Regions from separate parts of the Homo sapiens genome. Here region 2 is linked to region 1. Evidence: fine-mapped expression QTL. Tissue or cell type: whole blood. Region 1 holds a variant in brackets; the other region holds the start of a gene. All regions are shown on one strand. Distances are from middle to middle.

Region 1 (8,108 bases):
GTAGTATCAAAAAATCCACTTCTCACCTAAAGGAATTATTGTTATTTAAAAAGATGCTGAAGATCATCTACACCTAGGGTTGGCAAAATATGGCCTGTGGGTCAAACCCAGCCCACTGCCTGTTTTTGTAAATAAAGTTTTATTGGAACACGGCCACACATTGCCTATGGCTGCTTTTGTACTACAACTGCAGAATTGAGTAGTTGTGACAGAAACTGTATTACTAATAGAGACTACGCATTTACTATCTGGCCTTTTACTCAGAAAGTTTGCTGACCCCCAGTTTAGAGTACTACTCTCATTTGACATAAAAGGAAATTGAGGCCAGGGAGAGGAAATGACTTTCTCAGACTCATTAATGGTACAACTGAGACTATACTCTAGGTCTCACTTTCCAGTTTCTCTTTTTGAATATTCCTGTTTCTTCCCTGGAATGACAAATGTTCACGTTGAAGATGTGATTCAGAGGGGGCTAGGAAAGTGTCCCCATGTTTCTGTGCTTAGCTAAGGAAATATCTGTGAACTTCCTTTCAGAGCTGGTGGGTGATGTTCTATTGTCCCATCTATGTCCATTTTAAAGGGTGACAGTGTCTCAACTTGAACCTCAACTTTATTTACTTTGGATCCAGACACCCCTGAGCATATTTGGAGAATCATGGCCAAATGGGCCATGGGGCCCCCTAAGGGGCCTTTCTCATGAGTCCCCCAGGAGAGTTCACCTGAAGGAGCAAAGGGTAGAGCTGCACAAATCTGGGTCCATGAGAGAGGAGCAGAGAAACCCAGATGGTGCTAAGGGCACCTGCCTGACTCCTAGGCAGAAAGGGCTGCCATAAGGAGAGAATTAAGTGAGTCATTCCACAGACCCTAGCAGGGGCATGGAGGGCATCAGACAGCACAGGGCACTTGTGGCCCTGGTGCCAGTGGCTTTGGCATGAATGGTGGTGTCTGTGCTCTGGTGGTGTCCAGGTAGCTGCACAGGAGTATGTGATCTCTGGAATGAAACTCAGCACAGGAATTCAGGGCAGAACTAGAGAGAAATGATGGTTACTGGTGTTACGTACCAGAGGATTGTGCTATGTGCCCATGTGGAGTGCTCCTTGGGGTGCCCTAGAACCAGCAGGGAAGAAAAGGCAGGGGCTGGGAGGGTTCATAGCAGCAAATGGGGCTGAACCAGATAAATACTCTCTTTTTTAAAAATCCTAGGCTAGTACAGCAAGTGACAGTAACAGTTACAAGTGTTAATCCTCTCATTTGCCTCTGCCAGTGTTAGAATATCATAGAGGTGAATTTGAGTTCTTCCCAAGCCATATCCCCTGAGGTGGACAGCAAAGCCTCCAAAGCTCCATCGCTGAGTTTATTAATCCTGGTTCAATAGGGCAGGGAGATCCTCCAAGTCATTCAACAAGCAATTCCCTTACTGTCAGATACCACTTGTCTATAAACACAGCCCATGCAGTTGATGCTATTGGCACAACCACCTAAACTTGAGTGGGATCCAGAGAAATGGCTTCTGGCCTGTGAAGGAAAAAGCAAAAGAAAACAAACACTTGTTTAACAATGATTTAATTCTCTTCCTAATAGGAAAGTCTCGCTCATAAGTCTAGGACTTAAGCTGTCAGACAAGGAGAGGTAAGTCTATTCACTTCAGATAGGTGGTTATTTCTACCTTCCACCTAAAGAATGTGGATGGAAATGTCAGGGGAGGAAAAGAAGCCAGGGATTGCAGGTTGGATTAGATCACTCTGAAAACCATTTTCTGGGTTTATGGGTGATCATGCATTGTGGTTTTTATTTATAGGCAAGTGGTAGCTTACCAAGAGTGACGCTAGGCACATTGCATACTCTGCCTACTTTTCCTTCCCTGACTTTTCCATCTAAACTCACAGAGGCAGATAAGAGGATTAACACTTCTAACTGCTACTGTCACCTGCTATACCAGCCCAGGATTTTTTTAAAAAGAGAGAGAGCATTTCTCTGGTTCCAATTACTCATGATTAGGGGCCAGACTCTGTAAAATGAGATGTTAACTTGAAAAGATAGCTACATTGCAAATGACTCTTGTTCAGTAGAAAGGCAAAAGAATTCTGTCAAATAGAAAACATAACCCCAAAGGGTCTGATCTTGCTGCTGTGTAGGACATTAAACAGTTTTGCCTAGCTTTGCAAACCCACTTCTACATCCTTACTTTCAATGATCATAGAAAACAGCCTCTTGTATTCTCCTTTGATTTGGATTTGTCTTCCTACTGGTTCCCTCACTAATAAGTTAGATCAATCTTCGACTATATCTGTATGAGAATCATGTTTTTAACATTGAATAGCAACCCCCTTCTCCAAACTTCTCTGTGGGCTTCTCTGTTTATAATTATCCATCTTATTCTCTATGCATCATAATGAATTGGACTCATCTGGCTTTCATTTCTTAGCTGGGAGATTAGACAAAGTCTCTTTGTTTTATTTTTTTAAAAAAGAAAGTTCCTTTCGTGTCTACTTTAAGCCTATTCCCTTCAGCAAGTTGTTTAGTGACCTTTTGGGCCCAGCATTGTGCTAGTTACTCCATAAATCATAGAAGAAAGGTCATAGCCCCTGTCCTTAAGTATCTTACAGACCAAATGGAGAGATGCATCATGTCATTTCTCCATAATTTTTTAATAATAGTCATCTGTTTTGAGACATTGCCATGGCATGTGCAGACCAGTTAGCTACCTTGAGCGCTAAGGCTAATCTGATTTTACTCCAGGATCTAGAAGAAAAAAAAAGTAGCAAGAAAGATGACTGTAGCTGTAACAAGTTTCAGCCTCTGTTGGCTCCCACCCAAACTAATCGGCCTGGGAGATTGATTTCCCTTCCAGCCAGCATCTTGTTCAGCATTTCTGCTCATCATGCTTCTGGCATTGCTTCCTCAGAGGACTGTCCATCATTCCTAAATGATCTCTGGTCCTCTTGATAAAACAGCAGACAGATGCTGGGGATACAGAATTGAAATTCAAAAATATACCTGATTTGCAGACTCATTCCCTCCTCCTTGTTACCCTGGCTTCTCTCACCAGAGAGAACCATCAAGCAGTCTAGCAGTGAATTGGGAAGTTTGTGTGTGTGTGTGTGGGTGGGGGGTGTGTTGAGGGTGGGAGTGGGAGTAAAAGGGAGAAGATTCCTGGGATGAGTTTGAGGGGAGAAAGCTTCTAAGCAGCGATTCTCTAAACTCTCTGAATTCTTATAGGCCCATCTTTGAGGGATATTTTGGAGAATGATGTTGATTTTACTGTCTCTTCAAGGTCAGAAACAAAGGCCAGTTTGTTTAGTGTTAATACAAAGATAGAAGGAGGAAAGAGCAGGCTTTAGTGCCCACATGTTCATTTGGATACAAGGCTAAGAACTTCGGGGTGGGGGTGAACTGGGGAGGGGATGACCATACTTGTGCTAAAGTACTTTATAAATGAAACCCAGCTGAGGCTCTCCCAGGCCCTTCAGATCCAGATAAGGTTTGTTTGAACTGTCTGGACTGTGGAAAGCTACAGCCCTCTCCCATATTTCTGTGAATTATTAAGGGATCTATATGATCTTATTAGCTCTGGCTCCAGCTTTCTGCCCCAGCTGAGTTCTTGATCCCTGCCCTATTGCTTGTGGCTGTTCTTTATTTTCACTCTGGCTTTAACCCAAACATGAAAGAACTTGGCCCTCTTTCCTTGCTTTCCACAAAATAACCATTCACACATGGAAATGAAGGAGATTTCTATGCAGCAACATGAGCTATTTTAAATGGCACAGCAGATATTCCTCTTCTTAAAAGTTCTTTGGCTACCCTGCCTTCTTGCCCTGCCATCCCCCAAATCTTCTTGTTCTTTTGTGCAAAGGCAGTGTGTTCTAACAGGAGCATGAAGGTTGCCTGCTAGAGTTCCTATCCTAGTCTAACGCTTACTCGCTGTATACCTTAGGTAAGTCACTTCAACTCTCCATGCCTCATTCTTCTCATCTGTAAAATGGATTTAATAGCCCACCTATCTCATAAAGTAGTTGTGAGAATAAAAGGAGATAGATATTGCCAATACGCTCATTAAAAGATGCTTGCCACCATTAGTTAACAGGGAAATAGAAATCAAAATCACGATGAGATACCACCACCACGAAGATGGCCAGAATAAAAAATTCAGATAACAACAAGCGTTGGTGAGAATGTGAAGAAATCAGAACCCTTATAGATGGCTGATGGAAATGTAAAATGGTGCAGCTGCTTTGAAAAACAGTTTGGCAAGTTCTCAAATAGTTCAACATAGAGTTACTATAGAACTCAGCGATCCACTCTTAGTTGTATACCAAAGAGAAATGAAAACAACGTCCACACAAAAACTTGTGCCTGAACGTTTATAGCAGCATTATTTATTATAGCCAAAAGGTGGAAACAACCCAACGTCCATCAACTGACAAATGGATACATGAAATGTGTTAAATTCATACAGTGGAATATGTTCAACTACAAAAAAGACCAAAGTGCCAACATAAGCTATAATAACATGGAAGAATCCTGAAAGCATTGTGCTATGTAAAAGAAGCCAGTTGTAACAGATCACATACTATAGCATTCTATTCATGTGAAAAAGAAAGAGAGAAACCTACAGAAAGTAGGTGAGCGGTTGCTCAGGACTGA[G/C]GGGTGGGGTGTGGGGAAGAGGAGGGTAGTAGCTAAGGGACATGGGGTTTCTTTTTGAGGTGATGAAAATGTTCTAAAATTAACTGTGGTATTGTTTGTACATATCTGCGAATACTCTGAAAGCCATTGATCGTACCCTTTATGTGGGTACATTGTATGGTATGTGAATTATATCTTAACAAACTGTTTTTTTAAAAAAAAGGAAATGTATATTTATATTTATAACAGTGCCTAGCACACAGAAAAGCTCAGGGACCTGAGAGGAAACAGATGGCACATTGATGTGAGTTATTAAGGAGAGATTAATGAAGTATCTATTCACAGAGGTGTGGGCAGGGTCAGGGGAAATGAACAAGAGATGCTGGAGTGTCCCAGGGCAAGGGGAGGAATCCAGAGGCTGGGCTGTAGTAGAGAGGGTGGCCCAGCAGGAGCTGTGGCTTTCATAGAGACAGCAGCCACCACCCACCTGCAGCCCAGCAGGGAGACCCTGAGAACCAAGGCCTCCACATGATCAGACATCATTTGCTGGGGCTTCTCTTGGCTGGACCCGTCCGAGAGCTCGAAGAGCCATTGAGGAGCCCACAGATGTCTCCTGGAGCAGAAGCTGTTATTATTATGTGCACCAGCTTAGCCTTCGTTTGTTTTGTCACATCTTAACAGCCCCACCTTAGTGCCAATCTTCTACGGCCATGCTTTTCCCACCAATTGGTCCAATAAGGTAGGTTCTTAACTAAGAGGTTTGCTTACTAAGAGGTTTGGGTACTTTTCTATCGGGGGAACTCACCCCCAATATTTCAACGTAGGTTCTTTCTATTTTCTCCAAGTGTCAGCTGGTCTGAGAAATAGAAAGAGTACAAAGAGAGGAATTTTACAGCTGGGCCGCTGGGGGTGACATCACATATCGGTAGGTCCATGATGCCCACCTGAGCCACAAAACCAACAGGTTTTTATTGAGGACTTTAAAAGGGGAGGGGGTGTATGAACAGGGAGTAGGTCACAAAGATCACATGCTTCAAAGGGCAAAAAGGAGAACAAAGATCACATGCTTCTGAGGCCAATAAAGATCACGAGGCAAAGGGCAAAGCAAAGATCACGAGGCACAGACAAAATAAAAAACTCCTGATAAGGGTCTATGTTCAGCTGTGCACATATTGTCTTGATAAACATCTTAAACAACAGAAAACAGGGCTCGAGAGCAGAGAACTGGTCTGACCTCAGATTTACCAGGGAGCAGTTTTTTCCCCCATCCTAATAAGCCTGAGTACTGCAGGAGACCAGGGCGTATTTCAGTCCTTATCTCAACCGCATAAGACAGACACTCCCAGAGCAGCTGTTTATAGACCTCCCACCAGGAATGCATTCCTTCCCCAGGGAATTAATTATTAATATTCCTTGCTGGGAAAATAATTCAGCAATATCTTCCCTACTTGCACATCCATTTATAGGGTCTCTGCAAGAAGAAAAATATGGCTGTATTCTGCCTGACCCTGCAGGCAGTCAGACCTTATGGTTGCCTTCCCTTGTTCCCTACAATTGCTGTTATTCTGTTCATTTTCAAGGTGCACTGATTTCATATTGTTCAAACACACATGTTCTACAGTCAATTTGTACAGTTAACACAATAGTGGTCCTGAGGTGACATACATCCTCAGCTTACGAAGATAACAGGATTAAGAGATTAAAGACAGGCATAAGAAATAATTATAAAAGTATTAATTTGGGGAACTGATAAATGTCCATATTAAAATGAAATCTTCACAATTTATGTTCCTCTGCCACGGCTCCAGCTGGTCCCTCCATTCGGGGGTCCCTGACTTCCCGCAACACTTTTCTGTAGCAAAATATTTGCAGGCTTCTGCAAAGATGCCCTACAGACTTTATCCTAGACTGGCTGGAGAAAGAAAACTAAAACATCAGAATGCTTTCCCCAGGCTATACACAGAGGGTGGGAGTGGGTGGAAGGAAACAAATAGGGCTGAAGTGTGGGGTACCACACTTTTGCAGCCCACATGGAGGAAGTACCAAGAGTGTAGGCAGATAAGAAACAGATTTTCAGCTTCCCCTTCTAGTAACCACACCTCCACAGGCTTGTATTTATTCCTCCCCGATGTAATTTCCTCCTGGAAGTGTGGCCTCCTTTCTCAGTGGCCTTTTTTTTGGACAGACTGGTGAATCTATATTTGCATTAAAGTCTGGGCAGAAAGGGGACCTGAATACATGTTATGGGCTGAATTGTGTTTCCCCAAAATCCCTATCTTGAGATCCTAACCCCCAGTAGTTCAGAATGTGACTGTATTTGGAGATTGAGTCTTTAAAAAGGTAATTAAAGTGGGCCAGGCGTGGTGGCTTATGCCTGTAATCCCAGAACTTTGGGAGGCCAAGGCAGGTGGATCACCTGAGGTCAGGAGTTCAAGACCAGCCTGGGCAACATGGTGAAATCCCCGTCTCTACTAAAAATACAAAAATTAGCCGAGCATGGTGGCAGGCACCTGTAATCCCAGCTACTTGGGAGACTGAGGCAGGAGAATCCCTTGATCCCGGGAGGAGGAGGTTGCAGTGAGCTGAGATCACACCATTGCACTCCAGCCTAGGCAACAGAGTGAGATTCAGTATAGAAAAAAAAATTATTTTTTAAAAAAAGGTAATTAAGGTAAAAGGAGGTTATTAGGGTGGGCCCTAATCCAATCTGATATGCATCCTTATAAGAAGAGAAGGACAAAGACAGACAGACAGAGGGAAGACCATGTGAAGACACAGGCAGGTCTCAGAAGAAACCACCCCAGCTAACACCTTGATCTTCGACTTTTAGCCTCCAGAATTAAAAATCAGTTTTGGTTATTTACTTATTTATTGTTTTTTGAGACAGGGTCTCACTCTGTCAACCAGTCTGGAGTACAGCCTCCGTCTCCCAGGCTCACTGCAGCTTTGATCTCCCAGGTTCAGCAATCCTCCTGCCTCAGCCTCCCACATACCTGGGACTACAGGCATGTGTCACCATGCCCAACTAATTTTATAAAATTATTTTTTGGAGAGACAGGATCTCACTATGTTGTCCAGGCTGGTCTCAAACTCCTAGGCTCAAGTGATCCTCCTGCCTCGGCCTCCCAAAGTGCTGGGATTACAGGCATGAGCCACCGTGCCCAGCCAAATTTTAGTTTTTGAAGCCACTCAGTCTGTAGTACATTGTTATGGCAACCCTAGCAAACTAACACACTACTCCTTGCAGGATGTTAGTTGCCCACCTTTCTCCTGCAACTCGTGGCTTTACAAGGTTGAGAGCAAAGTCCCTTGAATTAGGGTTTTGCTTCCCGCCTCTGCCCTATTGTTTACTCATAAGAAGAGCATTTGGGATGCTTTGCTGTTTTGTTCCAAGTATATATTCTGTTTATAAAACTTAGGAGTATAAGGAGTATCACCTTTTCTCTTTTTCTTTCTTTTCTTTCTTCTTCTTTTTTTTTTTTTTT
Region 2 (8,108 bases), 110 kb after region 1:
TAGTTTGTAAAGTTTTTGATAGAGACAGGGTCTTGTCTCTATCAAAAGGCTGGTCTCGAACTCCTGGCCTCAAGTGATCCTCCTGCCTTGGCCTCCCAAAGTACTGGGATTACAGGTATAAGCCAACATGCCCAGCCTGAAATTGTTTTTAAAAATTATTTTTTCTCTCTTATAAGTCAAGTGCAGAACAAAAAGAGCTAAACAAACGAAAACACAACAGCAAAAATCTCTGAATAAGTAGCTGTTGGCAACTTTACTATAAGTAGCTCTTGGCAACTTTACTATATGACTGAGGAAGAAGGACTTGATTTAGGTCACTTTTTAGTGACCTTGAGCCCACCCACCCTCCTTGTCCAGAGAGGGTCCCAGAGCACACAGCAGTATGTCCCTTGACACGGCCCACCTGCTCTCTGGGAGAAGAAATCCTTCTGGCACAAGACAAGGGTTCCTTGAGGACAGTCACCTGTCCTGGCCGCCTGGAGGGCCCTTGCTCCCTGGCCTGGGGATGCTGCGCTTTGCCCTTCTCCTCTAGCTCCAGGTTCCTCCTCCTGAAGAACTGCTGCAGTCGAGCTCTCTGGAGCTGCTCTCTCTGTTGGATCCTCAGCGTCTTCCCCACCTGGCGGCAAGTGGTCACATTGGGACGGCAGCGGCGGCTTTCACGGATCTCTTGCCTGCGCTCACACTTGGCCTCATAGCTCTCAGCCCACCGGGCCAAGCCAGGGGAGGGCCTGGGGTCTGGGCTGATCATGATGACCTCCAAGCACCTGTTGCGCTTGGCTTCCAGTTCCTGGAATAGATGCCTGGATCTGCCAAATGCCAAGAGGGAGGAGAAGGGGAGGGGTCAGAAGATGGGCAGAAAAATGACTATCTCCCTAGACCAGGGGGCAGAAATAGCACAGAGTTCCATCCATGTGGGTTGAAAACTGAGGACATGGTGGTATCAAAGTGGGAGTCAGGACTCTTGGGCTCAGTCTCTAATGAACTAATACAGTCTTATAAAAGTGAATTCCTGCTTTTCTCTAGCCGATGTTTCCCCTTTGTAAAGTAAAAGGGTCTCTATGGCTGCCACTTACTCCTTGACTGAACATCTTACCATGCCTCTGAGTCAGGGGAACATGAGAAATAATTGATTAAAATCATAATGAGCTTATAGCCTCTTGGATGGCAGGTGTGTGTTCATTTTCCAGACTTCTAGAGAAGCAGCTAAGTTGAGCCAATCTGCCCTCTTATCCCCCAGTTGAAAAGGAAAGTCAGTATCTTTACTGGTCTCTTGGTCCAAGCTGTCACTAACATAGTTGAGTGACACTTCTCAAGGATCTGGAGGGCTAACCACACCCCCTCAGGTGGTGACCAGTCCTGTGACCAGCACCCACTGCTCTCTTCTTGACTTTTAGCAACGAGCTTGTGAGCCTGGACCTGGCATGGTTTAGGAGGGAAACCCTACCCTAATTCCTCCAACCTGCTGTCCTGACAATGGTCCATGGGCCCCCCACTCCAAGCTCAGGACTGGGCTGTGTCTCTCAGGTGCAGATCAAGTCCAATCAATATTGACTGAGCATCTGCCACATGCCTAGTGCTGGCCAAAACCCATTTCAGAGCATCTGGCTCCAATACTGTTGGGGCTGAGGGTTCCATTTCTTTAGGATTACCAACCTGTCAGGGTTAATGTTGGTGCCAAGTCTGCTTTCCTTAGCCCAGACACAGATTGTGCCATCCAAACCCACAAGCACATGAATTGTACCTCAATAAGGCTGCTGCAAACAGAAAAGAAACAAAACAAAGACAGTAATCAGAAGTTTCCAGGGAGCCAGGCTTGGTGTAGGGGCCACAGGATGACCCTCTGCATGGCCTTACCTGATATTCACATAGCACCTAGACCTGAATCCCCTTTTCCTTCTCTGTGCCTTTCTCTTTCCTACTCTTCCCCACCTACCTTCTGTAGTTTATCCTCCTAGAACCCTCTGGTCACTTTGCTGAGTTGGGCTGGATTTGGATGAGCTGGATCCTGAGCGTTGGAAATTCTGTGTCCTGCCTCCTCTGATCACTGGAGTCAGACCAGGGACTGATGAAGGAAGAGGGACTCCCCCTCACAGCTGCTGCTGCTTCTCTTCCTCCCACGACCTCATTACCCACCACCCTGGGAGGAGGGTATCTCAGCTTCACCAACTAGCAGGCATTTGCTAGCTCTAACCCCTTGGGGTTTATTTATAGGCCAAACAGACTCAACAGGTAGCAGACTCTCTGCCCCTTTACTGGGACTTCGCTACTCTGGCTCAGTCTGGAATTCTCTGCAGGATTCTTGTTTTCTCTCTGATCCTACCACTCATTCCCCAGGGTCATGGGTGGGGCAGTCTTCTTCCCTGAGAGGAGTTTTGTGTGGTCAAGCCCTGGACACTCAAATGCCTGACTCTTGAGGGTTGGAGGGGCATACTCTGGTGTCAGGCAGCATTGATTCCAAGCAGAAATGTGAGGTTATTAATGTTTGTCCTCTACATACCCATTCTGAATGGCTCTCTTCTTTGTTTTTCCTTACTTCTTCTTCTCGGATAAGGGTGGGAGTGGGCATAGGGGGTGGTCCCTTGACTTCTTCCCTGCCACTTTCTTTATTTAAAGACTTAAAAGAAAGGGTCTGAGAGACCCATGTCTATTGTTATAAATGACTGAATGGAGGAGACGCAGGATTATGTGCATGTGAACTCCATGTCTAGAACCTACACTCACAGCATCCCTGAGCCACAGCCCCTGGCTATTCTGCCATGGATTGCAGTGGAGAACCCTGGCTCTTGGAGTCACACTGCGTGGACTCATGTCCTGGCTCTGTCACCTACAACCTGTGTGTGTTTTTAGATAAGCTATTAAACATCTCTAAGCCCCAGTCTCCTCATTTATAAAATGGGGCTAGGACCTGCCTTGTAGGTTATAAGGATTAAATGACAAAATGCAGGCCATGCACCTGGCATGGAGCACACAATAAATGTTACCTTTTAATAATAAAGACATAAAGTATTCCTATTAGGTTGGTGCAAAAGTAATTGCGAATATTATCCTTGTTATGCCGATGTTGGATATTGAAGACTTGGTGCTGTAAGACAAAGGCTCCAAGCTAAACTAGCACTTCTAGGACCAAGAATGCCTTCTCTCATCCTCTCAACCCTCTCTCTCTTTGACAGAGTATATTGTTTACCAGATTGAGGGGATGCTGGCCCCAGGCTGAAGTCACATTTACTTCTGACCTCTGGGTTTGGGCTATAAGGAGAAAGGCTTCTCTGTGGTCTGGACATAATTGCCATCCCAATTACACCAAGCCGAAAGGTAAGGAAGAGATGGGGTCTGCCTGTGTCACACATAAGGTGTGAGGTCCCCTCCCTGTTTGGCTCAGCTTCCCCACAGGTTTTGTAGTGGAGGCAGAACATTGAGAATCCTCCTACCTTCTTGCCGCGAAGAGGAAAGGGCTGTGGGGGAGAAGACAGTGCCTGAGATGAGGTCTCTCTGGGCTCTCCACCCAGGCCACCAACCTTAGTCCACTGAAACACACAGCTGCTCTGCTCTCTGCTTCCTTGGGGCAGACATGGAGCCTTCTTACCCAAGAAAGGAGCTGCAGTGGAAATGGCTCCTTAGAGAGGGGAGTGTTCCCAGATGCCTTGGCTACCACACCTGCTAGGATTTGGTGCAGCATGCTGCATAGAACCCTACCCAGGTTTCTGGGATATCTGGACCCTACTGACTTGCTTGAAAACAAGAAGGTATGTGGGACGGCTGACAGGGGTAGGCTGCTAAAGAAAAGGGAACTGGTCCCTGTAGGGTTCAAAGAAAGATCACTTGGCCACTGCCCAGGCTTTCTGGCATCTCTCAGGTTCCCCCCTGGCAGCATGACTGGGCTCACTTAGAGCTTGGAGGAAGAAGGTTTACTGGCTGGGAAGGCTCAGCCTGGTCTCTCAGGCTGCAGAGAGAGAACAGGGCATGGCTCCTCACCTGACTGTGGCTTGACATGCCTTTCTGAGTCTCGCTTTTACTTCCTGGCCATGTTTGTAATGGAGACAATGAATGGCTTCCTGCATGGGTTGGCCTTCCTGGCCCAGAGCTCTCAGTGTGAACTGAGGGGAGAGGGGCCTGCGCTTAAGCTGCTGGGAAGGCAGTCTTGTGTTCAGGGATCCCTGCTTTGAAGAAAACTGTAAAAGGTCATTTAATTCATGCCCATATCACTGGGTAGCCTGAACTCTAAGTCGTTTGACTCACTCCTAATCTAATGTAATCTAATCTACTGGAACAGAGGAGTGGTGCAAGCTGTACCCTGTGCCATGGCTAGCGCCACAGGAAACCAATACAGGATACTTTCTTGGTTACCCAAACCCCTGACACCCTTAAACTATGCCACCCACTCTCCACCCAGGGGAGCTGGGATGGTAGAGCATCTTCTGCCCTACCCCGAAGTTGGAGTTCCCAAACCTGGACACAAAAGCATCCTCCTTCTCAGTTACCTCCTAGTCCCAGGCTCCAACTCAAGCCACTCGGGAAAGCATTCCAGTCCTGGGCAGATCTTGGCTCTGGTCTCAGATGGAGCAAGACAGCAGATGGGTAAAGCACACGCTTTCAATCCATAGGTCTGGGCCCCATTAACACGTCCCTTCTTGGTACCGTCTTTCTTTTTGCACAGCAGCCTTGCTGAAACAGGAAACAGACAAAGCCACAAGGTTCGCAAACCCCAGTTCCTCTCTCTTGCTCTCTGGTATCATCTAAGTGGGCCCCTGAACTCTGAGGCCTCCAGGGCTGGGCTCAGGAGCTCCTCCCATCAGTAGGCACCCCGGCCACCCTTTCTCTTGCTACTGGATTGGTCGGAGCTCTTGGACAGTTTCAAGTCAAGATTCCTTTCCATGATTAGAAAAGGATAGTCCTCTGGGTCAGATTCAGACCTTTGTGGTTTCTATGAGAGGGAAAAAAATGCCTTTTTGGTGGTAAGACCTAGATGAGATGTTCTCAGTGTAGGCTTTCATGTGTATCAGGTAGTTCTTTGTGTAAGGATTTTCCTTTTTCTTTAGCCACCTCTTCCCAATCCTGGTGTTGTAAAGAGTTTCTGCTCTTCTGAAGTAGGTGGTGTCTTTCTCAGATTCTGGAATGAGACCAACTCTGGATTTGCTCCTTTCTGGAGCAATGAGGAGGGAGTGTAAAGGTGGGTAGCTGGGGGATGAAGGAAGGAATAGAAGGCAGAGTCTTCTACACATTTTTTTATCTGGTCAACCGGACTAGGAAATTTAGGGAAAAACTAAAGGGAACTGATTTGCATGCATTAAGATGAAGCCATCACAAATGATGCAGCCAGGAAATTCCCAAGAAGTTCAGGCTAAAATAGTGGAGAGGAAACTGGATTGGGACAAGTTAACTGAGCAGCTTTGTAACCTTGTAAAATTCACCTTGTCTGGATGCTACTCACTGTGGTAGTTGGGTGATGTATGTGGCTCTTTGGAATTCTAAGGTTTGACACATGTGAGGCAGGTAATGAGACTTAAAAATAGCTGTGATAACATTTATTAACATGTGGAGAGTTTGTCACCATTTTCTCTGCTTCTGCTTCTTTCTCTGTTCTTTGAGGAGAAAAAGGACAAGGAATCGGCAGGGAAAAGCAGAGGATGGATTCTCAAGCACTAGGACTGAAGACAAGTGGCATTTACTCAGGATGAGAGACAACAGCTCAAGGCCCTGTGTCTGGAGCTTGACACATAGAGATGGGAATGAGTAGAGGACAGAGGGCTTGGGGAGCCCAAGATGTCAGAAAAAGAGAATTTTGGCCGGGCACAGTGGCTCACACCTGTAATCCCAGCACTTTGGGAGGTCCAGGTGGGTGGATCACTTGAGGTCAAGAGTTCAAGACTAGCCTGGCCAACATGGTGAAACCCCATCTCTACCAAAAATATAAAAAATTAGCCGGATGTCATGGCATGTGCCTGTAAACCCAGCTACTTGGGAGGCTGAGGCACAAGAATCGCTTGAACCTGGGAGGCAGAGGTTGCAGTGAGCCAAGAATGTGCCACTGCACTCTAGCCTGGGCGACAGAGTGAGACGGAGTTTCACTCTTGTTGCCTAAGCTGGAGTGCAATTGCGCGATCTCGGTTCACTGCAACCTCCGCCTCCCAGGTTCAAGCAATTCTCCTGCCTCAGCCTCCTGAGTAGCTGGGATTACAGGCATACGCCACCATGCCTGGATAATTTTTTGTATTTAGTAGAAATGGGGTTTCAACCATGTTAGTCAGGCTGGACTCAAACTACTGACCTCAGGTGATCCACCTGCCTCGGCCTCCCAAAGTGCTGCGATCACAGGCATGAGCCACCACGCCTGGCCAGAGAATTTTTATTGGCATAGAAGAGTGAGAAGATTCTGGGAGTTCAGGGCATTAGAGCGTAAAGAAAGACAGGAGATTTTAATAGGAGTTCCTATAGAGACCTACTATTTGGACTCCATTAAACATCAGAAAGAAATGTCTACAAAGTCCGCAGTCATTGGGATACTAATCCCATGATAACTGGGATTTAGAGTGGTCAATGATATGCTCAAGATCACACAGAAAGTGTTGGACCCAGGTTTGCTTGACAGTAGGTTTGAGCCCTTAACATTGTGTTCTGAGAACAAAACAATTAATAAGGTTGTCATACCTATCTATCTATATTGAAAAAGACACACACACACACACAGAACTTTGAGAATAGAAAATATACCTTATTTTCAAATGCCCACGAGACATTAAAAAAATTGACCATATGGATCAAAAAGTAAACCTCAGTATATGTTTTGAAAAGTTGATCTATTATGGCAGGATTTTCTGACCACAGTACAATACAATTGAAATAAATAACAAAAGATGGAAGAAAGAAACACTTTAACTTCTTGGAAAAAAATTCTTCCCATTTACTCTGAAAAGATAGAGGGAATTTCAAATCTGCAATTAAGAATGCATTGAAAACGGTGATAGTGGCAACATTATGAGGAAAATCTGTGAGGTATGGCCAAGCAGAATGCAAGGAAAATTCCTAGCTTTAAACATTTTCATTACCTAAATCAAGAAGATTAAAAATAAATTTCCTATTCATTTATTTTCAAATGAATTGCTAAAAAATGATCAGAAAAAAAGGAGGTGAGAATTTTGAAATGATAAAAGGAGAATATATAATAAGTTAGAATCCTGTTTAAAATTGATAAAAAAAATTCAGTTTTGTGTGTGCATCTGGCAGGGGGAGGAATGGTAGACATACAAATAGAAAACAAAATCAATAAAATAAAATATCAGCGAGCCAAATCAATTTAAAAAAGAGAAAAGACATTATAAAAGTTTAGGAATGATACATGGAAAGTAGCCACGATACGGTGGAAATTAATTATAGAGAGTCATTTGTGTAACTATGCTAATGATTTTTAAAATCTAGATAAAATGGATTTAAGAAAATGAATTTACCAAATTAAGCTCAAGTAGAGATTTGTAGTGTAATCATCAGCTGGCCTCCAATAGAGGGTTTAATTCAGGCTGCTCTTGAGCTGGGCACCAGGCTTTTAGTGGCCAGTATCCTTTGCTTCTCCTCATCATTTCCAGGTTCAATGGGAACAACGGCTCCCTTTTTTGATGGTCATATTCTGAAACAGTTTCCTTGATAGATGCTGGGCCCTGTGTAGTCCCCCATGAGGCGATGAGTATGGGGTAAGCTACCCTTTCCTTTATAGCCTGGTTGCTTCACAATACCACACAAGCATGTGTAAGATTATCAGATTTTATTGTACAGTTGGGGTAACTAAACTATATGCTAATATGACTTCTCCCATACTCCAAGAGACAGCACTAAGGAGTTAAAAAAATTTTTTTTTTCTTGAGATGGAGTTTCGCTCTGTTGCCCAAGCTGGAGTGCAGTGGCATGATCTCAGCTCACTGCAACCTCTGCCTCCCGGGTGCCTCAGCCTCTGGAGTAGCTGGGATTATAGGCATGCACCACCACGTCTGGCTAATTTTTTGTATTTTTAGTAGAGACGGGGTTTTGCAATGTTGGCCCGGCTGGTCTCGAACTCCTGACCTTAAGTGATCCACCTGCCTTAGCCTCCCAAAGTACTAGGATTACAGGCATGAGCCACC

What was found. PIP is the estimated chance that this variant, and not a neighbour inherited with it, causes the effect.
Region 2: TRAF3IP3 starts here. The variant in region 1 is fine-mapped to the expression of TRAF3IP3 in whole blood (TOPMed, PIP 0.96).

Annotation. Positions count from the first base shown.
Region 1 is chr1:209,864,958-209,873,065 of GRCh38, reverse strand. No RefSeq gene overlaps it. Among named protein-coding and RNA genes, the nearest start is that of UTP25, 41 kb to the right of the region's middle. The variant G/C (reference allele first, on the strand shown) is at 4,645.
Region 2 is chr1:209,752,680-209,760,787 of GRCh38, reverse strand. TRAF3IP3 (TRAF3 interacting protein 3) reads right to left here and starts at 4,735. Exons shown (of 17, transcript NM_025228.4): 1 at 4,479-4,735; 2 at 1,654-1,754; 3 at 404-806. The coding sequence starts at 748. RefSeq lists enhancers at 4,163-4,572, 4,853-5,012.